Linked DNA regions of Homo sapiens. The protein of the gene in region 1 interacts with the protein of each later gene in a pairwise test. Each region holds a gene or a part of one and is shown on either strand. Other genes may lie near its edges.

Region 1 (2,540 bases):
AAATATCTAAAGCCCAACCAAAATTAGTGTGGAGATCCCACAATCTGGGCATTGCAAAGCCCATTACCAGAAGCAATGACAATGCACATCCTAGACAATGCTTTACTAATAAATAGCAATATTAACAGCACATTTGGACAGAAGAATAAAGAGTTTATTAAAATAAAATCTTTTTCACTTCCTATCTCTTTTGGAAAGAAATACAAAAACTATAAATTATATCTATAATGCAGTTTGGATCACTCATTGATCCAATGGCTTCAGATATCTGAATTATAAAATCCATGCCTTCCCTTCCCAGAGTTATAGATCCAGATTGATCCAGTTATAGATTATTCATTGATCCAAACTGCAGTTTGACAGAACTAACATACAACCCAGTTTTTGAGGGCTGGAAAGTAAGGAAGACCTGGTGATCAATAATATTAGAATACTTCTCAAAGGAAGAAATTAACAGATGACCTTACTAAAGAATATGCATTTCTCAAATGAGTTTTACCAGTCACCACATTAGTCAGTAGAAACCAGATCTACAGAATGGCTGATAACAAGATGAATGGAACCACCTTCTAGGTGGAAAATAGATTGGATGGCAGAATCTGGATCTATAACTCTGGGAAGGGGAGGTATGGATTCTATAATTCAGATATCTGAAGCCATTGGATCCACAGCCCAGTGAGGAGCAGCTCCTGGATCCACAGCTCAGGGAGCAGCAGCTATTGGATCCAAAACCCCGAGACCCAACATGCATAGTCAGGCAAGAATTGCAGAGCATGTGAGTCCTGGGGTAGTAGCAGGAGGTGTGGCAGGGGCTGGACTCAACACACAATGTCTGACAGCTGTTGGGCCTCCAGCAGGTCTCCTGACAGCCCCTATAGAGAGAGGAACCCAGCTGGCAGGTGCTGGGAGAGCAGAGGTCAGTGCTGTAGACCAGGTTGCTGGGGTAGGAAGAGCCACAGGAGGAGCCTGGGTAGTGCAAGTAACCCCCGTGGGAGCAGGAGGAGAAGTTTCTAGAGCAACAGTTGTAGGACATGTTGACGGGAAGATGTGAGTTCAGCTGAGTGTACCTGGGAAGATTCTGAGTTTTAACGTGGCATCCTGGACAGTGTCATTTATATCCTCTCAGCAATAGGTGTGGTGCACAGCAGAGTCATCCCTCACATTTTTGTGCTCCCTCATTTACATATGTGTAGCTCAGCAATCTTGCCTGTAATTGCATTTGAATACTTTTCCACATGTTGTATTTATGCGTGCTATAATTTTGGTGTTATAGCACAAAGCCAATGAACTGCACTTATGCCAGAAATGCTATGACTGTTTCGTATTAATATTTATTTTATTATGTCTAGGAAAGCACCTCCTTTTCCTCCTAGCATAATTTTCATGTGTCTTGTTATTGGCTGTTATGGGCAATAATTTTCCCTAAACAGTGAGAAATGAGATAAAGTTACATGTCTTTTTTGTCAATGGATTAGAGACACAACTTTGGCCTTAATGAGAAACCTGCTGAAAACTAAACCTACATGTCACCATCCTTTCTCATTCCACAAAAGTTTCCTTCATCTATTATGTACTGTTACTCACTGTGTCTCACATCCAGTGTAGAGGGAAAAGTATGAGCCAAGACAAATTGAATAACATTGATGCCTATGACCAGAAGGAAACCTGGACAATTATTTGGAGACATGGTGACAGCAAGGGATGGAACTGAGACAATCACAAATGAAAAACAATTCTGGGGCCTTATGAAGAGAATTAAAGTGTTAAATAAACACACACCATTGAAATGACAGAAAAAAATAAATGAATTTTAGATTCAATGCATCTAATATGAGGCCCATGGTCCTAAGAGATTCTCATTCATATGTGTGGCAGCCTGGAGAATTCTCATCTCGGATCTTAAATTACAGGAGGCTTAAATAACCAGTGGTCCTACCTGCTGTGTTCTAAAAGTTAACACTGCATTTTTGGGGAAGGCTTGCTTTCTCTGGGCTGCTCCCAAGCAAAGACTGAGCACAGTGGGATATAGGAATTCCTGGAAGACAATTGACGGCCAGCTTTGACTCAGGGTTTCCTCAACGGCCTTAAAGAACTACTGTCTCCTGCATAGGTCTCAAGCACTTCTTTCTCTTTCTCCTTCACTTGGGCCAGACCTATGTCCAAATCTTACAACTCTCCCAGCCTCTCTCAGGGGAGACTCTGGAAAGAGAAAAAATGCAGAAAATCTGTAAATATTTAATCTTGTTTATACTTTTTAAAAAGTGATACTGTTTGGATTTGTGTCCCTGCCCAAATCTCAGGCCAAATTGTAATCCCCAGTGTTGGGGAAGGCCTGGTGGGAGATGATTGGATCATGGGGGTGGATTTCCCCCTTGCTGTTCTCGTGCTAGTGAGTTAGCTCTCATGAGATCTGGTTGTTTAAAAATGTGTAGCACTTCCCCCTTCACTCTTTCTACTGCTTCCCTTGTAGGACTGCCTGCTTCTCCTTCATTTTCTGCCATGATTGTAAGTTCCCTGAAGCCTCCCCAGCCGTGCTTCGT
Region 2 (3,500 bases), on another chromosome or scaffold:
AGGAAAGAGCATCAGCTGGCAGCTGCAAGCCACCTGGGGTCCAGTTGGCCCTGAAACTTCCAGGTCACATCACCTGGGAAAGCCAGAACGTCACAGGCCTGGACCCCAGTTTCCGACATGTCGAATGAAGATGGTCACAGCCCTGATCTCACAGGGTGGTCATAAGGGTGAGCCTGGCACACGGCAAATACTCAACAAATGCTGGCCGTTATTGTCATTTGTGTTATTAAGGACAACCTCTGCTGCTGCAGGCTTTGGGAAACCTCACGTAAACATGATTCCTGGGCCAGATTTTGATGCTGGACTTTCCAAGTGCCGGCAAAGTCCCAAGGGAACATTTGAGTTTGACACGACTGTTTCCAGGACTACCTCTTGCCTGAATGGCTAAAATTCCACTCTGGAAACCATCCCATCCAATTCCACCTCTCCACAAGTCATTCCAGAGTCAAGGATGTCTTTCTAGCAAAGTCTCACCTCTGCAGATCAACTGCTCCCACGGGGGCTGAGGGCCTGGCTCTGTGCTAACCGTGTGTGTTATATGTGTGGCATGTGCATGAGACACTGGGGACAGATGGAAGCCAGAGTGAAGATCTCTGGTGGGTGCCAATTTGGGCATCAAGGGGGCCACAGCTGTGCCCTCCCTGGGGCCCCTTCCTGCTCACATTCTGCAGTGAGGGTTCAGTAGAAGGATCTGACTAGAGGGGCCCAGGGGTGTCAACTCGAAGGGAAATAGACGATCTCACCATGCAAAGATCAGAAACAACCCAAAAGTTCAACAGTCCTCACATCAGCTATCTGGGTTAGGACTGAAGTTCCCGTTCTGACTAAGAGGGGACCATGTCTCAGGGAGCAGAGTAACAGCTAGATGGGACCTAAGATCGCATCTGGGCGATGGAGCGCTGGGCCCTTCCTTCAGCCCTAGGCTAGCTTCCCACTCTGGCAACATGGGCACTGCCATGTCCAAGGAGGACCGTCCAACTGCCACACAGTGACTTCCCAGGGGATGCCCACCAGCACTGCTGGTTCTCGGAGGAAGTGCCATGTTCCAGGAGGCCTTTTCCTACAGCGGCCATGGATTAAAGAGAACGCCAGTGACTTGGAACCAAGGATGCTGGGCACATCCCATGCTCAGAGGCACCTGGAAGAGGGGACTGCCCTAGGCTCAGGGTTACCTTGGGGATCGACTTCCTTGGCCAGCTTGAGGGCGTCGGAGTTGGCCAGGTCCATGTTGGCGGGCGTGACAGCCAGAATGAGGCTGCTCTCCCGGCTGATGAACTGCAGGATCATGTCCTTGATCTGGTACTCGATGTCTGGAGGCTGGTCGCCCACAGGCACCTTGGTGATACCCGGGAGGTCGATGAGGGTCAAGTTCAACACTGGGAGGGAAACCAGAAGGAAAGGCATTCAGAGCCAGGAGAGGGGAGGCACAAACAGGCCCGCAGCCACCCAGCTGACTACCAAAGTTCCTGCGCGGGGCTCAGACTTGAGGATGTCGCCTGACACTCTGCCTGAACCACACCTTTGATCCAGTAACTCCCCTTCTAGGATCCCATCCTACAGATACCTTCTACCTACTCCATTTCAATGGCACAGTTCTAAATCAGGACAGTTCAGACTGGAATAGACCTAAATGACTGAATAAATTTCAGCCCATCCATTCAGCCAATACCAAAGAACCATTACAGACAAACAGATGAGGCTGGGTGCGGTGGCTCACATCTGCAATCCCAGCACTTTGGGAGGCCGAGGTGGGTGGATCACTTGAGGCCAGGAGTTCTAGACCAGCCTAGCCAACATGGCAAAACCCCATCTGTACTAAGTATACAAAAATTAGCTGGGCGTGGTAGCACACACTTGTACTCCCAGCTACTCTGGAGGCTGAGGCATGAGAAACACTTGAACCCAGAAGGTGGAGGTTGCAGTGAGCTGAGATCATACCACTGCACTCCAGCCTGGGCGACAGAGCAAGACTGTCTCAAAAAAACAAAAACAAAAGACAAATGGATGAGGCCAGGCGCGGTGACTCATGCCTGTCATCCCAGCACTTTGGGAGGCCATGATGGGTAGATCACTTGAGCTCAGGAGTTCGAAACCAGCCTGGGCAAGATGGCGAAACCCTACCTCTACCAAAAATATAAAAAATTAGCCTGGCATGATGGTGTGCATCTGTTGTCCTAACTACTCAGGAGACTAAGGCGGGAGGATCGCCTGAGCCCAGGAGAAGAAGTGAGCCAAGATCTCACCACTGTACTCCAGCTTGGCCAACAGTGTTAAACCCTGTCTCAAAAAAAAAAAAAAATAAATATATAATAAAGAAACATTCTGAGAGGCATACAAAAAAAAAAAAAAAGCATAGGCCAACGCAGTGGCTCACACCTGTAATGCCAGCACTTTGGGAGGCCAAGGCAGGCGATCACCTGAGGTCGGGAGTTCGAGACCAGCCTGACCAACACGGACAAACCCCGTCTCTACTAAAAATACAAAATTAGCCGGGTGAGGTGGCGCATGCCTGTAATCCCAGCTACTCAGGGGGCTGAGGCAGGAGAATCACTTGAACCCGGGAGGTGGAGGTTGCGGTAAGCCAAGATTGCACCATTGCACTCCAGCCTGGGCAATAAGAGTGAAACTCCATCTCAAAAAAAGCATAAGTGATTTTTATGTTATGCTAACAATTTAAGGAAAAGGAGTGATAAACACATACACAACATATACATAGATACAATCACAATTGCTTACATGTTTTTTGCTTACACATTTTTTTTAAGATAGAGGGTCTTGCTATGTTACCCAGGTGAAGTGCAGTAGCTATTCACAGATGTGATCATAGCTCACTGCAACCTCGACTTCCTGGGCCCAAGTGACCCTCCTGACTCAGCCTTTCAGGCAGCTTGAATGACAGGTGTGTGAAACCACACCCAGCTCATGTTTGCATTGTCATCTGAAGAACCTAAAATATGTGTGCAAAACTGGTTGACAAGGTAGGTTTTTGCGATATACCTTTCTGTAATTTTTGAATTCTGAGCCACATGCAGGTGTCATTTATTGAAAAACAAATTTAAAACTTATCGCAAGGAACCCATCATGGTAGCAATCTGTGCCTCTGGGCCAGAGGATGTCTATGGCCCCGGGCTGCTGTTTGAATGCAGAGTTTTAAAATCAGGATATTTGGCTGGGCAAGGTGGCTAAAACCTGTAATCCCAGCACTTTGGGAGGGGGATGCAGGCGATCACCTGAGGTTAGGAGTTCGAGACCAGCCTGGCCAACATGGTGAAACCCCATCTCTACTAAAAATACAAAAAAGTAGCTGAATGGGCTGGGCGTGGTGGCTCACGCCTGTAATCCTAGCACTTTGGGAGTCTGAGGTGGGTGGATTGCCTGAGCTCAGGAGTTCGAGACCAGCCTGTGCAACATGGTGAAACCCCGTCTCTACTAAAAATAAAAAAAATAAAAAATAAAAAAAAAATTAGCCAGGCAGGGTGGTACACACCTGTAATCCCAGC
Region 3 (3,500 bases), on another chromosome or scaffold:
AAGCAAGTTGTATGTGACGGTCAAGTTCCCAGTTCCCAGAGGGAATGGCAATGGATAATAAGGTTGACCTGAGCCATAGTGGACTTGCTCTCCTCAAGATGCTGTGTCGTAAAAATGAGCTATATTAAGATAAATCATGCTGACTTTTATTTTCCTCAAGAATACACTGCTGGCTGCTTGGATTTTTTTTTTTTTTTTTTTTTTAAACTTCAAATTTGTGTTGCTGTGAACAGCTGGGCAAGTTTTTACCCTGTCATGGAAACTATCTGGCCATTTTTGCACTGTTCTGTATGCTGGGAAGGGAGGTGAGCAGAGCTTGCCAGAAAAGAGTTCTAAGCTCAGTTTCTATGCTCTCCTGTAACTTCAGGGACTTGTGAATGTCCAGTTTGTTCCTATTTGTTGCTTTTGTATAGCATGTCGTAATCTGGCTACAACCTTCCTGGCTACCTATTTCACAGGGCTGTTGTAGGAAATTCAGAAAAAGTTTCGTGGTCCTGTTAAAAAGAGCATTCAGCAAAGAATTGAAAAGGTAAAGTTAAGTATCACCAGCATTACATTTCCTGCCTGAATTAATCTTTTCAAAGAACTCTGAGATCTGAGGCTGGCAAATTCACTAAAAAGGCAAAGAATTACTTTAGGTTATTTTTACTAAATCAGGCATCCTAAAAATACTCTTTTTTGATGCCTTGATCAAGAGAGAAGAAATTTCAGAGAGAAGAGGCATACAAATGCATCTACAGTTCTACAAGTAGCCCAATTTCAGTATCAATTTATCCACTCACTATAATAAATATTAAATATATACAATATACAAAGTATTAAGCTAGATACTATAAGGATGAAGAATTATGTAAAAGATGTTCCTATATCCTCCTGTACTACAAGTACACTGTAAGATGTAACTTTTGTTTAGATTTCCTTCCCAAATAAGCAAAGGTTTCTAGTTTCCCTGGGACAAAGAAGGTGAAAGAACAAAATAATTTTTTTTAATCTATTATGACTTTCTGGATTCATAGAAACATTTATTTTAGAACATTCAGGGAGACTTATCTGTTAGTTTCTACTGATGAGTACCAAGAGTGACTGAACTACAGAATGGCTGTGACTTCCAAAGATAACCTGATTAAATCTGACATGCACATGACATGGGGGGAGCAAGGAATCCATGTGTCCTTCAATTTCAATAAGAAGAGTTAAAATGTACTATCGAAGGAAGAAGATCACAACCGTGTGGTTTAGAAAGCAGACCAAAAACAACAGGACAGAAATATTCCAAATAACTTGGAATCCAAGTCACTTGGGTTTCCTTGAATGCCCTGCCATATTAAATCACATATGGCTCTGCAATGAAAGGAGAAGTTAAGGCCTGTCTCATGCCCCACTTCTGCCACTGACTGAGCTTGAGAAAGCAAATTCAATCTTTTAAAGTTATTCAGGGAAAGGCAGAAATGGTAGTCTGGACATATAATGAAATAAGCTTATTAATGTGGGGTAGAAGACGTCTTGAGCAATTAGCCAGTGTCCTTATCCAATTAAGTTGGAAAAGAAAGCCCCAAATTTCCTTAAAGTTTTACTGGTATTAGTTTGCTAGACTGACAGTTCCAATATATACATTCTTTGTATGTGTTTACTTTTCCCCCTAGAGTTATGGCTAAACTGAATAGAACCAAATTCCCAAGATCTGCTTCTTTCTCTTTTAATATCCTATTTTTCCAAAGCCACCGAGCTGATGTCCTTCAACAAATGGATTAAAGTAAATGCTGAGAACCAGCTCTCGTGTCCGAGCAGGGGGGAATGAAGGGTTTATACCCAAGGCAACTAGGGGCATACTCATGATGGTCAATATAACATTAAGGAAATCTGTAGTACATCAAATGATATTCTGAAGTTATGGTTCTATTCAAGCTGAACCATCTTTTGGGAAGCCAATCACAAACAAGATTGCTGTATTTGGAATTCTGACACCAAGAACGCCTAGGCAACCTCTTCACAGAAATGGAAAATAAGACTCAGCCAGCTCCATGTCCCATGGTGTAACCTCACATGCAGCACATGAACAGTTCTTAGTTATTATTACTTTTGAATGAAAAGTAGATCGACTTACATGGCTCTCTGGCAATGAACTGAGGTACAGTGTTGGGCAGAGGAGTACTGGGGTTTGGAGTCCCTACGAGTTTGTTCTTGGCCATCTTCGTGTTTGCCTTAGCAAACTCTAGTCGTAGTGTTTGCGGAATTTCAGGATCGAAGCGGATGCCCTTTGGAAACAGAGAACAAATGGAAGATGTTTTCATTTCCTTTGAGTCAAACCGGAATGGTGACAAAATAAACACACCAGTAAACCCTGGTCTATCAGGAAAAAAGGTCAGCAACCACTCTCATTCTTACTACTTACACAGGTTACATGAAAAATGACAACACAAAGTGTCCCGAAAGTCAGTGGGATTTAGTTTAGTTAAAAAATGTAGTTACACAGATTTTCAACTATTCCTTTTCTTTTTAGACAAAAACTTTTCAGTTTAAAATTTGAACCAGCAAATTCCTAGCACAGTTACACACTTTAATATATAGTAATTTCAGTTACCTCTGACCCTATTCCTGCAGTTTACCTAAAATAGATTATATTCAGTAAAACAAATCACAGACACTATGAAAGACACTAGCGCAAGACAAGTCTATTTGGAACCTTTCCACCATTCAAGAATGTCTTCATTATTAAGCATCCAATACCATGAATTCTGGACCCTACGTGTCAAAAAGATATCCCAAGAGAGTGTATTTTAAATGTGCACCCATGGGACCCACTCAGTTCCCATGTTTTCATGGTGTGGTCTGGAAAGGGACTGGAGTCCTGAAAACGAGTCTCCTAAGAACACAGTTGCCATTTAGTGTTCTGAATGTACACACATGGGCCTGAGGGCTCCAAAGCATCCCCCGCCCCCTCGCCACCATTCTTCCTAATGAGCTTGAAAAAAAATAAGAGCAGGCAGGGCGTTGTGGCTCATGCCTGTCATCCTAGCACTTTGGGAGGCCGAGGCGAGTGGATTGCCTGAGCTCGGGAGTTCAACACCAGCCTGGGCAACATGGTGAAACCCCATCTCTACTAAAATACAAAAAAAAAAAAATTAGCTGGGCGTGGCGGCATGCACCTGTAATCCCAGTTAGTTACTTGGAATGCTGAGACAGAATTGCTTGAGCCCATGAGGCAGAGGGTACAGTGAGCCAAGATCGCGCCATTGCACTCCAGCCTGGGTGACAGAGCTAGACTCTGTCTCAAAAAAAGAAATATCCACAAAAACAAGACTCTCTTACTCTAGAGACCAGGATGAACAACTCTGAACTTCACAGGCTCAGCTTCAAGTATACAAGGAAGAGCCTGTGGCTGGATGGTAATGGCATTAACAGGAAACAAGGGGGGAAGGGGAAGGAAAGAGAGGTCCTTAGGGAGGCCTAACAAAAGCCACAGAGCCCTGACCCAGAAGTCTTGGAGTGGGTGGAACTTC
Region 4 (3,500 bases), on another chromosome or scaffold:
AGAGCGCATGTGGAAACTGAGTAGCCGAAGGGGTGGACTGTGCCATTTATCAATATATTGCCTCACAGATCCAAATCCATTGTTCTTTGCTCTGTGAAAATGGAACTAAGTCCTTTCCATATCTTTCCTTTGCCAGATAGCACATTTTAAGCTTCACCGGCAGAAAGTGTTATTTAGTTTTCTGTGCTGTGTAACATACTGCCATAATCCTAGCAGCTTATAAGAACACACATTTATGATCTCAGTTACTGTGGGTCAGAAGTACAGACGCAGTTTAGCTGGGTCCTCTGTTCAGGGTCTCACAAGTCTGCAAGCAAAGTGTTAGCTGGGCTGCATTCTCATTTGGAAACATGACTGGGAAAGATTCCGTTTCCAAGCTCATTCAGATTGTTGGCAGAATTCATTTCCTCACAACTGTATACTTGAGGGCCCCAGCTTCTTACTGGCTATTGTCTGGATGCTAACCCCGGGTCCTAGAAGCCACCTGCAGCTCCTTGCTATGTGGCCCTCTCGATAGGCAGTTCACAACACAGCTGTTTGCTTCTTCAGGGCCAGCAGGAGAATCTCTCCCTCCAGTCTCCTAAGACAGAGTATTACATGATGAAATGTAATCATGGGAGTTATATCCCATCACTTTTGCCGTACTGCTTAGAAGTTGCAAATCTCATCCACTCAAGGGGAGAAGATTATACAAGGGTGCAGAACATTGTGGGTCACCTTACGGTATGTCTGCCACATACTAGAAAGACATTGCAAAGGCAAGAGCTTTTATTCCCGGTTCTGGTATGTTCACTCAGCAGGCTCCTGCAGTACTTGGCTCCTGCAGCATGAATAGCTTCTCCAGTGCTTGGTTCCTGCAGTGCACTGTGGTCAGCAGCATACACAGGCCAGTAACGTCTCATGGCATAGCTATGCCCTCTCAAATGAGGTCCTTGGTTGGCCTCTCTCAGCCCTAAGGGTATGATAGATGCCCTTTTATCTGATATTCAAGGATTCTTTAGTTTTCCTTACTCTTACTAGCCAAGCCCTCATTTCTCCTACTCTCTGTTATAATAATTTTTATATTAAACCCTCCCTGCTAAAATTACTGTATGATTTCTGTCTATTGCTTAGTCTCTGACTGATTCATGGACCATGTTCAGTTAAGATTTGCTAGCCACTGACACTCCAATGAGCTGGAGATGTCTAGAAACTTTACATTTACAAATGGAAGGTCACTCACCTCTTTAATTTCTTTCAGAAGTTCAAGAGCACAGCTGAAGTCAGGGGGAGTTGCTGATAGTTGCTCTTTAAGATGGTCCCAAAAGGCATTGTGCACTGTCTCCTTGACCTTGCCTTCCAGACTATAAGAGGGTTAAATGAGCAGATTACTCTCTCAACCCAAAAACAGTTACAGTGTCATAACCTCCTAAACCCCAAACTGAATTTGATATGGTAAAAGGCCATTATAATAACAGGGAAAGGCCAGGAACTATGTTGGAACTGCAGCAGAGTTGAACAAGCTAGGGTTAGATTTGTATTTCAAGGGCAATGGCAAAACCTCTCAGAAGGGCTCCTTGTGGTTCCAGAGCAGCCCTCTCTCTGCAGTAGAAAGAACCCTGAATGGAGAGAAGTCAGGCTGACTTTTAGCACTGACTGTGCATCTAGCCTAGATAACTTGATTTCCATTTGTGTATACACATAGCATTGAGCTAAATGATCTTTCATTTTCTTATACTCCTGAAATCTAGGAAAGGATATTGCTTCTTTGAAAATACCAAAGGTCCACAGATATTTCCAAATCAGCGTATCTAAAACTAAATTCATTATCTTCCTCCTCCAAACCTGCTCCTCTTGTATTCCCAATTTCAGTGGCACTACCATCTATATAGTAATGGAAGCCAGAAAGAAGTCTTTTTTTTCACCTTGAAAAAAATACAAGGAGCAAAGGAAATTTGTTTTATTTTATTTTTTGAGACAGGGTCTCACTCTGTTGCTCAGGTTGGAATGCGATGGCACAATCAAGGCTCACTGAAGCCTCAACCTCCCACGCGCAAGCAAATCTCTTGCCCCTGCCTCCTGAGTAGCTGGGACCACAGGCATGAGCCACCGTGCCAGCTAATTTTTTTATTTTTTTATTTTTAGTAGAGATGGGGGTCCCGCTATGTTGCTCGGGCTGGTCTTGAACTCCAGGGCTCAAGAAATCCACTTGCCTCTGCCTTCCAAAGTGCTGAGATTACAGACGTGAGCCACTGCACCCAGCCAAGGCAATTCAATTTAGAAATGAGGGTCTTTCAACAAATAATGTTGGAACAACTAGATATCTAAATACAAAAAAATAAAGAATCTAAACACAAGCCTTAAACTCTTCACAAAAGTTAACTCAAAATGGATCACAGACCTACTTGTAAAATACAAAACTGTAAAACTTGTAGAAGATAACATAGGAGGAAATATAGGTAACCTTGAGTTTGGTGATGACCTTTTAGATACAATGCCAAAAACATAATCCACAAAAGAAAAAATTGCTAAGTTGGACTTCATTAAAATTAAAAACTTCTGCTCTGTGAAAGACACTGTTAAGAGAACAAAAAAACAAGACACACACTAGGAAACAATCTTTGAAAAATATATATCTGATAAGGATATATATCCAAAACATACAAAGAACTCTTAAAACGCAACAATAGGAAAATGAACAACCATTAAAAAATAGGCCAAAGACCTTAACAGACATCTCACCAAAGAGGATGTTCAGATGGCAAATAAGTATATGAGAAGACGCTCAACATCATTTGTCATTTGGGAGTTGCAAATTAAAACAACAAAAAGAAAAAAAAAAGACACCGCTATATGACACCTATTAGAATGGCCAAAATCAGAAAACTGACAACACTAATGGCTGACCAGGATATAGAGAAATAGGAACTCACATTCACTGCTGGTCAGATGTAAATGGTACAACCAGTTTGGAAGGCAGCTGGGCAGTTTCTTACAAAAGTAAATATACTCTTACATATGATCTGGCTATCACGCTCCTGGGTATATACCAAAATGAGTTGAAAGCTTATGTTCACACGAAAACCTGCACACAAATGTTTATAGCAGCTTTATTCATAAGTGCCAAAACTTAGAAGCAACAAAAATGTCCTTCAACTGATAAATAAACTGCCCATAAAATGGAATATTATTCAATGATAAAAAAATGATTTGGGAGGCTGAGGCAGGTGGATTACTTGAGGTCAGGGGTTCAAGACCAGCCTGACCAACATGGTGAAAACCTATCTCTACTAAAAATACAAAAATTAGCTGGGTGTAGTGGTGTACGTCTGTAATCCCAGCTACACAGGAGGCTGAGGCAGGAGAATCGCTTGAACCCAGGAGGCAGAGGTTGCAGTGAGCCAAGATTGTGCCACTACACTCCAGCCTGGGCAACAGAGCGAGACTCCATCTCAAAACAAAAAGAAGGCCGGGCGCGGTGGCTCATGCCTATAATCCCAGCACTTTGGGGGGCCGAGGCG
Region 5 (4,200 bases), on another chromosome or scaffold:
CAGGAATGGCAGCCCCAGAGAGCTTCTGGGTGGGGTTCAGTATCAGGGAGATACTGCTTCCAGGTCAGGAAAGGTGGCCCTCTCTCTCCAACCTTCCTTACATTAATCCAACAGGCATTTCCTGAGTGTCTGCCATGTGTAAGGACAGTTGGGGATACACAGTCCTACTGGCTAGCTCAGGAACTAAGAGTATTATCTGTACAGCAGTAACTGATGTGGCCTTTGAACAAGGGAGGGTGTGCAATGAAGTTGCCTCAGAAGTTCTGGTTCCCCCCATTCAGCACCCCTCTTACACTTTCATGATCTTTAGGGCGGTGACATCCTTGCGTAACGTGGACACCTCCTCCTCCTGCTTTTTCTTCTCCTTGTGCAAAAACTGAATGTAGTCAATGGCTAGGGTGGGGGCAAGAAAAAAAGGACAGGTACAGAAGTATTCTCAACCAAGAAGATAAGGCTGACTTTGTTCCCCTTACCCCAGACCCCAACTATCCCATGGCAATCACCACACCAAGGCCGAGCCATGGGTGGGTAGGAGGCACTGGCCTCTTCACAGCCCCGCTTGGCTCCATCCCCTCCAGTGCTTTCCCTAGCCATACTCTTTTGTAGAACGATGGCTTTGCTGAGCTTTTGGGAGCCAATGGAGAAGTCCTGCTGCTGGCAAGTGGGGACGATGGTCTGAAGGTCATCATAGCCTCTCTGTGGAAACAGCAGGGGAAATGGGTTCTTTAACCCTGAGAGATTAAAGCAAAATGGCACAAAGTTCCTCCATGACACCAAGTTCTATGCTCACAAACTCAATGGGGTGGGAAGGCTGCAAGGGAGGTGTTTGTGCCTGGGACTATACTACCTGCCCACCCCCTAGGGTGCCTGGGACTGTCTGAGTGGGTCAGGGCACAGGGAAGCTAAACTATGCAGGGCCCTCCCGCACTGGCTGAGGCACAGGCCTCCCTGTTCACCTTGATGGCGTCCCTCCTCTTCTGCTCAGCCTGAGTGTGTGCGCGCCGCCGCCGGTCTTTGTAGGACTCCTTGTAGGCCTCCTGGTGGTAATCACTGTCCTCATCATCTACGCTCAGAGATGGGGGCAGGGAAAGGTCATCTTGGGGCCCAGTGGGGTCCAGCTAGCCCACCTTTCCCCAGCTGGGAAGAACCTGGTGTCCAGAGAAGGCAGATGGACAGAACCACCTAATGTTCCAGATGAGGTGAAAGATGGTGAGACCTTGTGTCTGATACTTTGGCTCCAGCACCCCTGTGTGGATGGCTGGGGCTTCCCTGTCTAGGAAAGGTACTACAATTATGACATATCTGAGCCCCCCGAGGTCGGGGGGGATGTTACTGCCTACCTGTGTTGGGGACAGAAGAGGCACTGGTGGAACCGATGCTATTAGCTCTGGACACTACACTCCCCTTGCGGGTGCTTTCTACAAAAAGCCCTGGAAAAGAGAGGCCCCAATCACTAAGGGGTGGGGTGGGGAACATTGCCAGACCCTCAGACACCTGTAGGACACAATGGCTTTCTTTTATTTATTTATTTTTTTTTTAGACAGAGTCTCGCTCAGTCGCCCAGGCTAGAGTGCAGTGGCGCGATCTCGGCTCACTGCAAGCTCCGCCTCCCAGGTTCACGCCATTCTCCTGCCTCAGCCTCCCGAGTAGCTGGGACTACAGGCGCCCGCCACCACGCCCGGCTAATTTTTTTGTATTTTTTAGTGGAGACGGGGTTTCACCGTGTTAGCCAGGATGGTCTCGGTCTCCTGACCTCGTGATCCGCCTGCCTCGGCCTCCCAAAGTGCTGGGATTACAGGGGTGAGCCACCGCGCCCGGCCACACAATGGCTTTCTTAAATGCTGACCTCTTCCCTTCAACCCAAAGCCAACCATACTGGGCCCCCCACTTCCTGCCAGACCACGCTGCAGTGCTCTGCTCCCTAGTGTCTACACTGCTCCATAGGCCTGCATGATACCCCCCTGGCTCACAAACGGGCATGTGGACGTGATGAGGGTGTGAGTGATCAGCTGCTCCACTGAGTGGTGAGTGATCAGTTCCACCACTTCCCTGTTCCAGAGCAGAGGGAACTAGGTGTCACCCTCAGTTGTTTTCTGCCCTTGTCCTTCAGCTCCTGCTGTCTCAAGCCAGGAACTCTGCTCAGGGAGAGTGGACTGTGCTCAGGCGTGGTTGGCAACGCCACAAGAATCTAGAGAGCCTGGGCGGGAGTGTCCCTCTAGAGCTTAAGATGGGGCAGCTACTCACCGGGGTCCAGGCTGTTGTCGCTGTAGGCATACTCCACCTGCGGCACAGAGCACGGGAAGGGCCCGTCAGACCTCCGCCCCTAGGGGGAGGCGCCCCTTCCACTGCAGGCACGCACAGCGCGCCCCCCATTCCGGGAAGGCGCCTCTGTCACCCTGCGCGCTTGCACACACACAGCCCGGGGTGCGCGGGCAGCTTAATGAGTCCCCCGAGACTGGCACAGGCTAGGGCGTGCGAGTGCCTCCCCTGTGTATGATCCCTTCCGCCCCTACTCCACCCCAGTGCCCCGTTCCCCCGACTCGCGCGCACACGCCTCGTTTGTCTCCCCACCTTGGCACACGCGGGGTGAGAGCTGTCTTCTCTGCAGCCCCGGGGCACGGAGAGCGTGGGGGACTTTGGGGACAGGAGGGAAGCCCCTCGTCTTCCGGCCCCCCTACGTGCACGAGCCCGACCCGCCCTCCCCTCGCCGGCGTGCGCGCCCACGGGGCTTGCCTTGACCCAAGGGTCCTCGGGAGAGGCGCCCGGCTCCGTCATCTTGTACCCACCGGACCGGAAACGGGCCAGCGGGCGGGCCCCCTGCGGCGAGGAAGCGGGTGGCGTGCCCACGTGACCCGCGCCCGCCAATCCGCGACCGAGAGGTGGGGCAGGGCGAAGCATCGCGCATGCGCAGCCCAAAGACTTTACTCCACGGTTCCAGCCGTCAAGGCCCGGCGCTTGGCCTGGCGCCAGCCTCCTTCGAGACTGCTCCCCGCCGTGCCTGCCCTCCCCGGGTTAGGCAGTGGAATGGCGGCGACATGAAGCGCGTTTTGTAAGATGGAGTCCCCTCAATTGGCTTGTCAGCACACCGCCGCAGATAGTGTGTGCACGCGCACTGTCCGGCCGGCCGGCTCCCCACGTTACCCTGAGGGCGGCCTCCCCGCGCTCACCGGACCTGCACTGCTGGCCGGTGTGTCAGGAACCGGGCAGAGAAGCCCCCAGCCACATCGTCCGACCCCACCAGGCTGCAAGCTCTGTGAGGGCAGAGGCCCCGCCTGGCGCGCGGAAGGCTGATCTTCCAACACCCAGCCCAGTGTCTGGCAGGATGCATGTGGAATGAACCCTTGCAAAGAACCTGCTAGCTAGGTTATGCGGCCTCTCATATTAAAAACAAAACAAAAACAATAAAACACGGCAGTACCTAGAAAGTCTACACCTTACTCAGAAGAACACAGCTGGTCAGTGGGAGGGCCAAAGCTCGCCTCTGGCTAGCCTCAAAGGCCATTCTCTTAACCACTGCATTGCCCAGGCTTCCAGCTCAGGCCTGGGCCCTGCACTTGTGGCTTAAGGATCCCAAAGATACTTAGGGGCATTGGAACAGGAAGCAGACACCATACAAGCAACATCTCAGAACATTCACCTTTAATTCTGTTACAGGTTCCAGTATTTGCGCTGGCCCTAGTCAGCTGTGGGTAAGAGTCACCCATGGGCAAGAGTGGGGAGGGGACTGCTCCCCCATGAACCACATCCTCAGTGTTGGCCAAATACCAGCGTGTTGGGTAGGCTTCCTGTGTCCACCAGGCCTGGCCATGTCCTGCACAGTATAGCTTGGACCTCTGGGCCTGAACCAGGGTGAGCATCAAGGCCCCCATTTCTCCTCACCACGGGGTCGCTTGTCAGCTCCAGGAGCCAGTCTGGCCCCACTGAGAACTTTTCAGTCGAGGGCCTGATGAGTCTTGGGAATGCGCTTCTGCAAGAGGGCCCAGGCTTTCTCCACCTTCAGACAGGCCAGGATGTTGGGAGGAAGAGAGGGCAGGGTCAGGCAGTACCCACTGGAGACTCCTTCCCCACAACCCGGCCTTGCCCTGGGCACCAACCTGGCGTTGGGTGATATGCGGCTCCCACAAGGTGCTGAGCACCACGTGGCTCTGTTCCACAAGCTGCTGCCCGCTCATCTGGCTCTGCAGCCGGCTTTGAGCCGCG
Region 6 (3,500 bases), on another chromosome or scaffold:
GAATTGTGACCTGGATCAGCAGAGCATTGTTCACATTGTGCAGAGACCGTGGAGAAAAGGTCAAGAAATGAATGCAACTGGAGGCGACGACCCCAGAAACGCGGCGGGAGGCTGTGAGCGGGAGCCCCAGAGCTTGACTCGGGTGGACCTCAGCAGCTCAGTCCTCCCAGGAGACTCTGTGGGGCTGGCTGTCATTCTGCACACTGACAGCAGGAAGGACTCACCACCAGCTGGAAGTCCAGGTAATTGGAATGCTCTAAGATTATTAAAGCATTTTGTTTGTTTGTTTAGTGCAGTCTGCATGGAGCATGGCCTCACCGGGTGCATATTTAGTTTATGATACGTTTTGGATTGGAGTCTCTAATTCACTACAAGGAGACATCACTGTAGGTGGAGTACTTTGATGTAACATTTGAGAATGCATTTATTGTAAGTACTATGAAACAGGTTTTCATATTGAGATTAAATATAAGAGATATGTTTCTAGTGATGTAGAAAAATTCTAAAAAGCAGAAAGAACTCTAAAGCTAATCGAGCCATTTGTAGTTTCTAAAGCCAGATATGCCAATGGCAATGACATCCTTAGTGTGAAAGGACTCTTCCTTCTCTCTATGCTACCACCCATTTCAAAATGCTTTTCTTTGGCAAAGATTGTTATTGTTTAGTTATTTTAAAAAAATTAATATGTGCCTCTTAGTCTTTTATTCTCTAATCTAAATAGTCAAAGGTGTAATAGAATTAATTTTTACTGTGTTTGACAGAAGACACAAAATAATCACAATGACTTTACAGGGTAGAAGTTGATTTTCCTCCCACATACAATAGATCCTGGCAGTTGTGGGCTGGTATGGCCTTCACAGTGTCAGAAAGTTCTGGGGCCTGCAAGATGGAAGCCTAACATAATAAGAAATGCCTCCTACTAAACTTACTAAATAAAATTTAAGGAACTTAAAAATTTTCGATGATCTTGCAAAAAATAAAAAAAGATAATTTCCAAGGACAAGTGAAAATGTAGAAACAACATCTTTAAATACAGGAGTAGATAAGCCCAGAAAGTAAGGCATTAACTGATGCTCTGGTGATCTTGAGATGATTGTGGGAGGGAAAGAGGCTCTGCTTCATGTGAGCTGGGCACCTCAGGTCTGGAAAGAAAAATTGAGAAATGGAAATAAATGTCAAAAATGGGGAAAAATGAGATAAATCTAAACCCCTGCAATACTCTTGTGACCAGAATAATATATTAATATAAATATCGAACCCAAGCCCATAACAATTCTGACGTTTCAACCAGAGTATGTATAAGATCATTCTGACACTGACACCTCTAGAGAATACTCATGCTCCAACATTATAAACCAAACAATGGAAAATTCCACCTTGAGTGTGTATGAGACCAGAATATGCCACCCCAAAATATGCCACTTTAGCATAAGTATTATTTTAAGCTGATTATTTTGAGAAACAGTAGACACAGGAAAAGCTCTAAAAACAGAGTAGAAGTGACCCTTTTGTAAGGGAAATTTATATCTACCAAGGAAGTCTCCATTTGTAAGGGTGTCTCCCTCTCCTTACTAGGATGAGGAGGACAGAGTCTCTGGAGACTCTGATCCTTGAGAAGGCACCAACTGAATAATCTGCCTAACAAACCTTACTCTTGTCTTCTCCTCTCCCTTTCTTCCTTTGCCATTGAAGATGGTATTCAAGCCTGAATTTTAGGCACCTCTTTGAGATTTATGCATTTTTTCTGGGTGTCTCACATGTACAGTTGTCCCTCCCCATCAACAGGCAATACGTTTCAAATCCCCCAGTGTACGCCTGAAACCAAAAATGGTACCAAACCCTATATTTACTATGTTTGTTCCTGTACAACTGTATAACAGATTGGATTTATTATGTTAGGAGACCTATCTACTAGTTCTTTAATTTGATTTCCCAAAATAAAATTCTTACTAAAAATAAAAAAATCACATTGTTTAGAGCAAAATTAAACCTTTACTTATTATCTGAATATTAAAAACAATTTGAGCACAAGAATCCTGTTGTGTACATATTCATGTTCTTTAATACATTTCCTAGTGCATCTGGCTCTACTCTCTTATCAACCATATTCATCTGAAAATTTTAGTCTTCTTATTTTGTTTTATCATAAAATTGCCCTTGGTCTTCTCCAGAATTTTCTTTTATGAGAATGAACTTAGAATTATTGACACTTTCAACTGACTCTCTCTCTCTCTCTAGACCATAATATTTTAAGAAAATATAGTATTCTCTCTATATAGGGTCTGAAGTACCAGTAGGCACTGAGAAAATTCTGCTAAATGTCTAATATTCTCTTTATATTTTTAAATTGAAATGTGTGATTATTTCAACCCAAACAATAGAGAATAAATTCTAGTAAATTTATGGAATGTGGTAAATGACAGCAGCCTTCAGAGTACTGTATGATCTATGATGATGCGCTGTTTCACCTTGACTTTCCACTCATGTCTGAGTCACATCTAACCTCTGATCACCCTGTTTCTCATTTACCCCTCTGTCTTGTGGCCTGCCAGCCTTGTGCTTTTGGCAGGCTAGGGACTGGCTCAGGCAACTCTACATGGTGCAGTTGGGGGCTGCAGGGTTGCCATCCTAACACTTCTCCCTGCACCACTACACACTGGGGGCAACTTCCTGGCACCCTACATGCTGCTACTAAAAGGCCTCTGTAAAGATATGTTGCATCTGTAAAGATTGGGAAAAGAGAGATGGTGCATCCCAGGTCAACTTTCAGATTTAACTCTGTGTTAAACTAACAGCTAAACTACAAGTAATCCTCTCCTGCTCATTAGAACTGGAGGGAATCCTTTTCAGAACTCTTAGGACTCTCCCTTATTACTTGCTATTTTGTACTCCAGTTCTGACTTCACCTTTTAATCTCTTTGAGGATGGAGTTTTTGTCCAATTAACTGTAGTTTTCCCCAAAATCTCTTAGAAGAGTGGTGATACATGTTTACTAAATTGCTTCAAATTGTAAACATAGTCAGTCATTCAACAGAACTCCTGTGCATTTAGCTTTTAGAGCGAATGCTTTATTTAAAATTATACAGAGAAATTGAGATTTCATCTCTTCAAATGTCTTGGTTCATTCTTGGTTTGAGTTAAGACTGAATGGAATGATTTGAAATGACTATATGCAAACAGTATGCCTATATGATTATTTTTCTTCACTAAAAATGATAGCGTAAAGTTACTAGAGCAGAGATTCACAGACTCTCATGTGCAGAATTATCTTGCATGTTTTTCCATGTTTCTTTGATGGCCAGAATGGCGAGAAAAAAAATCTTCTTTCATTCTTTTTCTGTGACCAGAAATTTTGATGTATTTGTCTGGGGGTAGAGGCCCCAAAATGTTGGTACTGACCATACTCTGAGAAACTCTGCCCTATGGCTAAGGTTTTCCAGCCTTACAATTATGGATCCTACCTGTTGTTCTCACGGAACAATCGGACGCTGGGTGGGAGA
Region 7 (4,073 bases), on another chromosome or scaffold:
ACCCCCTTTCCGTCCTTGACTCCTCTCACTGCTAACAGAGACAGAACTCATTTACTTACTCTTTTGACTGTACCTTTGCTTTCACGAGGGCTCTTTCCTGGAATGATATGTCCATACAACTATTGTTGTTGTTCTTACTTTTAGCTCTTTTCTTAGCCCACTTGTACCCAGGTTTGATCACACCCCCTACTCTCCTGCCCTGGAAGTAACTACTATTCTGGTTATAGTCTCTTAATATCTATATCTATATCTATATATATGCATCCACAGATAATGTGTAGTATTGTCTTGAAAAAAATATACATAAATGGTATACTTTGTCTCCCTCTGCGATTATTTTCACTATCATTTAGTTTTTAAGATTTATCCCTATTGACATAAATAGCTATAGTCTTTTCAATTACTGTGTTGCATTTCATTTTATAAATATACCATACATTATTCATCCATTCCTCTAAGGGTGGGCATTTATGTTGTTTTCAAGGTTTTGCTATTACAGTGTTACAACGAATATCCTTAGCTTAGCTGGTCTCCTTGTCTTATACAAATTTTACTGACCTTTCAAGATCCTGCTTTCATCCCAGCTCCTCTGGGAAAGCCTTCCCTGAATCCCCCAGCCCACAGCGGCAAAGTCTTGGTACTCAAAGTTGCTTGTGCATCTTTGGTATCATCCCACTGCCAAGCACACAGCTACGCAAAGTAAGGCACTTAAGAAATATTCGCTACACGGATGAACAAATGAATGAATGAATGGGGCAGCACCACTCCGTGATGGCTCTATTCCTTTTTAATGGACTTTGGCGCCTTGGCCCACTTTCCTTCTTTGACAGCACTGGTCCTACTCCAGAGCATTCCTCTAGCTAGCAAAGCAGTGTGTGGATGTGTGGGTGTAGGTGGCGATACAGACCTCACTGGATGAGGACCGCCTCTCCCTGCAAGTTCACGATCCCGGCAAACTCCAGTGCTTGAAGTTCAGAGTCCTACCCCACCCCCCTCACCTCCACGCCCCTTCTGCACTGGTCAAGCCAGCGAGCCGCTGCAGCCCTGATCGAGTTAAGGCTGCTGGAGAAGGATGCGGACGGGGCCAGTGACTCGTAGTAGATCCCTCCGCGCGGAGCTCGGGCCGGCGCTTCTTCCTGCGGGAAACCCCTGGGTGCCCAAGGCGGCGGGGCCGAGGCCGCGGCGACAGTGGGGCGGGGCTTGCGGTGGGAGGAGGCGGCTGAGGCGGAAGGACACACGAGGCTGCTTCGCTGCACACCCGAGAAAGTTTCAGCCAAACTTCGGGCGGCGGCTGAGGCGGCGGCCGAGGAGCGGCGGACTCGGGGCGCGGGGAGTCGAGGCATTTGCGCCTGTGCTTCGGACCGTAGCGCCAGGGCCTGAGCCTTTGAAGCAGGAGGAGGGGAGGAGAGAGTGGGGCTCCTCTATCGGGACCCCCTCCCCATGTGGATCTGCCCAGGCGGCGGCGGCGGCGGCGGCGGCGGCGGAGGAGGCGGCGACCGAGAAGATGCCCGCCCTGCGCCGCTCTGCTGTGGGCGCTGCTGGCGCTCTGGCTGTGCTGCGCGACCCCCGCGCATGGTGAGTATCGGGCTGAGGGGCGCTGTCCGCGGCGCCCGGGGCTGCCACCTGGGGCGACCCTTCTCCCCCTCGGTCCTTCTCTGTGTGGGAAGGCCAGGCTCGGCCGCCGGCGCGGAGCGAGGCCACTCGCTGGGTTCCCGAGAGTTTGGACATCGCCGGGGGCCCCTCCCGTGGTGCCCCGCCAACCGCCGGGGTTCCCCGCCAACCGCCGGGGTTCCCCGCCGCCTCTGCTCCCCGCGGCCCGGGACCCCTCACACGCCTCCTCGGCAGGAGGGAGGCCGGCAGCAAGTCTCAGAAACTCCTTTTTCGTAGTGCCAGGGTGCAGGGAGGTGGGCAGTTTTGCCCTTCAGGTTCCGCGTTTCTTGGGGTCGAGCGAGAGCCGACGGCGGGCCTCGGAGGGGCTGAGCGAAGGCGTGCCAGATTCTGGCGTGGAGAGCGGGGGCAGGGCCGCCAAGCCAAACGGCCTGCACCTTCGCAGCCAGCCTCGCCTTTGCCAGGGGGCGGCACATGGGCCGGGTGTGTGGGCTTGGTTTGGATGGGGACGGGGTTTTGCGGCGCGCCTGAGTTTTGACACTCCAACCCCACCGAAAGTCCGGAGGAGCCGGGTGTGCTGCTCGCGTCTTTGAAAGGTGGAGGCAGGAGAAGTAGGGCAACTGGTGTGGCTGCATGCTGAGGCACATGATTTAAAAATCTCAACTGCTGTTATTCTTTCCGAGGCGCGGAGCTCTGCTGCTGTTTCAGGCTGTGTCCAGACCCAGGAATGTGGTGTGACGATCACCAATTCCTCCAACCTGGCAGCAGCATTTGCTGCTCCTTTGGCATGGCTGGGGGTGGGGCACGGGCGGGTGAGAAAAAGTGGATACGTCAATTCAAAGGGCTTCCTTAGAAAGCTTCTTTATGGTTGGATGTTTCTAACACGGTTGGACCAAGGAAAGGGAATCAAATCATATCTTCCCCATCCCACCCACACTTTTAGATTCTACATTTCTTCAGACCCTTTAGTGGAAATAACTTGGGCTTTGGAGCCCTGCTCTGTAATCCTGGATTCAAATCCAGCTCTGCTATATGAACTCACCAATAAAATGGGAATGAAATTATCCAGCTAATAGGATTAATTAAAATAATGTATATTAAACGGATGACACTCCAAAGGTGTTCAGAAAGTCCTTTGAGGGCCGAGGCTGTGTTTTACTGCTTCTGAGATTGATGCTCCCAGTGGGATGGTGTCTTGTGCATATTTGTTGAACGGAAAGCAGCCCCTTCTTTTTCTGAGCCTAATCTGAATAAAGATTTTTACCTTCACCAAAAAACTAGTACATGAACTACATCTGTTTTCAAAGAAAAGGTTAGGAAGATGATGAGCTTCAGAAAAATATGGTCTTTGTTCATTGTTAACAGTCAGTCGACATGTCAATCGCAGATGTTTAAAAAGAGAACAAGGTTATTTATCACCCGAAAATAGTACTGGGTTGTTCAGCACCAACTAGATACTTCTTGGAAAGTTCAAATTTCGTACACGTCTAGGTCACTAAGAATTTCAGAAGTGGACCAGGAGGCTTTGTAGTGATGAAGCAGAGCTGTTGTTTCTGAAGCATTTAATAAAGAGCATATATGATGGTGTTTTTGCTTTTCCTTTTTCTTTGAATGAAAGCTTTAAGTGTAGCTTTAGGATAGAGAGGAGTATAATCAATGAGACAGTCTGAGGGTAATAATCCTTGGTCTATCATTAACTTGTTTTGGTAAATAACTTAATCTTCATGATATGTAGTCTCTTCACCTATGAAGCAGGACTAAAGGAATAACCTGCTTTAGAGAATTGTAGGGAATAATAAATATGATTGTAAAGTGATTTGAAAAATTAAGTATTGGCCGGGCGCGGTGGCTCACGCCTGTAATCCCAGCACTTTGGGAGGCCGAGGCGGGCGGATCACGAGGTCAGGAGATCGAGACCATCCCGGCTAAAACGGTGAAACCCCGTCTCTACTAAAAATACAAAAAATTAGCCGGGCGTAGTGGCGGGCGCCTGTAGTCCCAGCTACTTGGGAGGCTAAGGCGGAGAATGGCGTGAACCCGGGAGGCGGAGCTTGCAGTGAGCCGAGATCCCGCCACTGCACTCCAGCCTGGGCGACAGAGCGAGACTCCGTCTCAAAAAAAAAAAAAAAAAAAAAAAAAGTATTAAATAATATGTCAGAAATGGGATTACTCTGACACATAGGGCTTCTTTTATTATAGGATCTCAGTGCATAAAACTATGCCCTCCACCTCTGCTCTGCTGAGGTGCTGCGATTATTAGCTAGCTTTTAGGTAGTCAAGTTGAGTGTTAGTCAAGTTGACTCAAAGGATAGGATTTAGATATTTTGATTTTTAGACAGGTGTTCTTTAGATGCTAAACTAATGCAGTAGAAGAGATTTAGAAGCCTGTTTCTTGGTACAAATCTTAAATCTTCTTAGAGTCTACAGTGAAGGCTTCTTGAATCCTCTTAATTTATTATTGTGTT

What was found.
Region 2: the proteins of KRTAP13-3 (region 1) and DNM2 interact in binary tests that used the Homo sapiens proteins (3 or more experiments, as listed by UniProt).
Region 3: the proteins of KRTAP13-3 (region 1) and RBPMS interact in binary tests that used the Homo sapiens proteins (3 or more experiments, as listed by UniProt).
Region 4: the proteins of KRTAP13-3 (region 1) and TCP11 interact in binary tests that used the Homo sapiens proteins (3 or more experiments, as listed by UniProt).
Region 5: the proteins of KRTAP13-3 (region 1) and MLX interact in binary tests that used the Homo sapiens proteins (3 or more experiments, as listed by UniProt).
Region 6: the proteins of KRTAP13-3 (region 1) and PRKN interact in binary tests that used the Homo sapiens proteins (3 or more experiments, as listed by UniProt).
Region 7: the proteins of KRTAP13-3 (region 1) and NOTCH2NLC interact in binary tests that used the Homo sapiens proteins (3 or more experiments, as listed by UniProt).

The regions. Positions count from the first base shown.
Region 1 is NC_000021.9:30,424,880-30,427,419, forward strand, and holds KRTAP13-3 (keratin-associated protein 13-3), read right to left. Parts: upstream 1,048-2,540; 5' UTR 1,034-1,047; coding exon 515-1,033; 3' UTR 501-514; downstream 1-500. UniProt on the Homo sapiens protein: In the hair cortex, hair keratin intermediate filaments are embedded in an interfilamentous matrix, consisting of hair keratin-associated proteins (KRTAP), which are essential for the formation of a rigid and resistant hair shaft through their extensive disulfide bond cross-linking with abundant cysteine residues of hair keratins.
Region 2 is NC_000019.10:10,773,579-10,777,078, reverse strand, and holds part of DNM2 (dynamin-2), read right to left. Parts: intron 1,377-3,500; coding exon 1,173-1,376; intron 1-1,172. UniProt on the Homo sapiens protein: Catalyzes the hydrolysis of GTP and utilizes this energy to mediate vesicle scission at plasma membrane during endocytosis and filament remodeling at many actin structures during organization of the actin cytoskeleton.
Region 3 is NC_000008.11:30,503,041-30,506,540, reverse strand, and holds part of RBPMS (RNA-binding protein with multiple splicing), read right to left. Parts: intron 2,362-3,500; exon of another isoform or gene 2,256-2,361; coding exon 2,105-2,255; intron 1-2,104.
Region 4 is NC_000006.12:35,127,840-35,131,339, forward strand, and holds part of TCP11 (T-complex protein 11 homolog), read right to left. Parts: intron 1,344-3,500; coding exon 1,223-1,343; intron 953-1,222; exon of another isoform or gene 739-952; coding exon of another isoform or gene 718-738; intron 581-717; exon of another isoform or gene 444-580; intron 1-443. UniProt on the Homo sapiens protein: Plays a role in the process of sperm capacitation and acrosome reactions. Probable receptor for the putative fertilization-promoting peptide (FPP) at the sperm membrane that may modulate the activity of the adenylyl cyclase cAMP pathway.
Region 5 is NC_000017.11:42,565,700-42,569,899, reverse strand, and holds the start of MLX (max-like protein X), read right to left. Parts: upstream 2,801-4,200; 5' UTR 2,776-2,800; coding exon 2,734-2,775; coding exon of another isoform or gene 2,572-2,733; intron 2,282-2,571; coding exon 2,245-2,281; intron 1,431-2,244; coding exon 1,341-1,430; intron 1,064-1,340; coding exon 957-1,063; intron 697-956; coding exon 597-696; intron 394-596; coding exon 294-393; intron 1-293. Other genes in the region: COASY (bifunctional coenzyme A synthase), read right to left, coding at 3,932-3,994, 4,095-4,200. UniProt on the Homo sapiens protein: Transcription regulator. Forms a sequence-specific DNA-binding protein complex with MAD1, MAD4, MNT, WBSCR14 and MLXIP which recognizes the core sequence 5'-CACGTG-3'. The TCFL4-MAD1, TCFL4-MAD4, TCFL4-WBSCR14 complexes are transcriptional repressors.
Region 6 is NC_000006.12:162,259,267-162,262,766, reverse strand, and holds part of PRKN (E3 ubiquitin-protein ligase parkin), read left to right. Parts: intron 1-1; coding exon 2-242; intron 243-3,500. UniProt on the Homo sapiens protein: Functions within a multiprotein E3 ubiquitin ligase complex, catalyzing the covalent attachment of ubiquitin moieties onto substrate proteins. Substrates include SYT11 and VDAC1.
Region 7 is NC_000001.11:149,389,348-149,393,420, forward strand, and holds the start of NOTCH2NLC (notch homolog 2 N-terminal-like protein C), read left to right. Parts: upstream 1-1,273; 5' UTR 1,274-1,440; coding exon 1,441-1,575; intron 1,576-4,073. UniProt on the Homo sapiens protein: Human-specific protein that promotes neural progenitor proliferation and evolutionary expansion of the brain neocortex by regulating the Notch signaling pathway.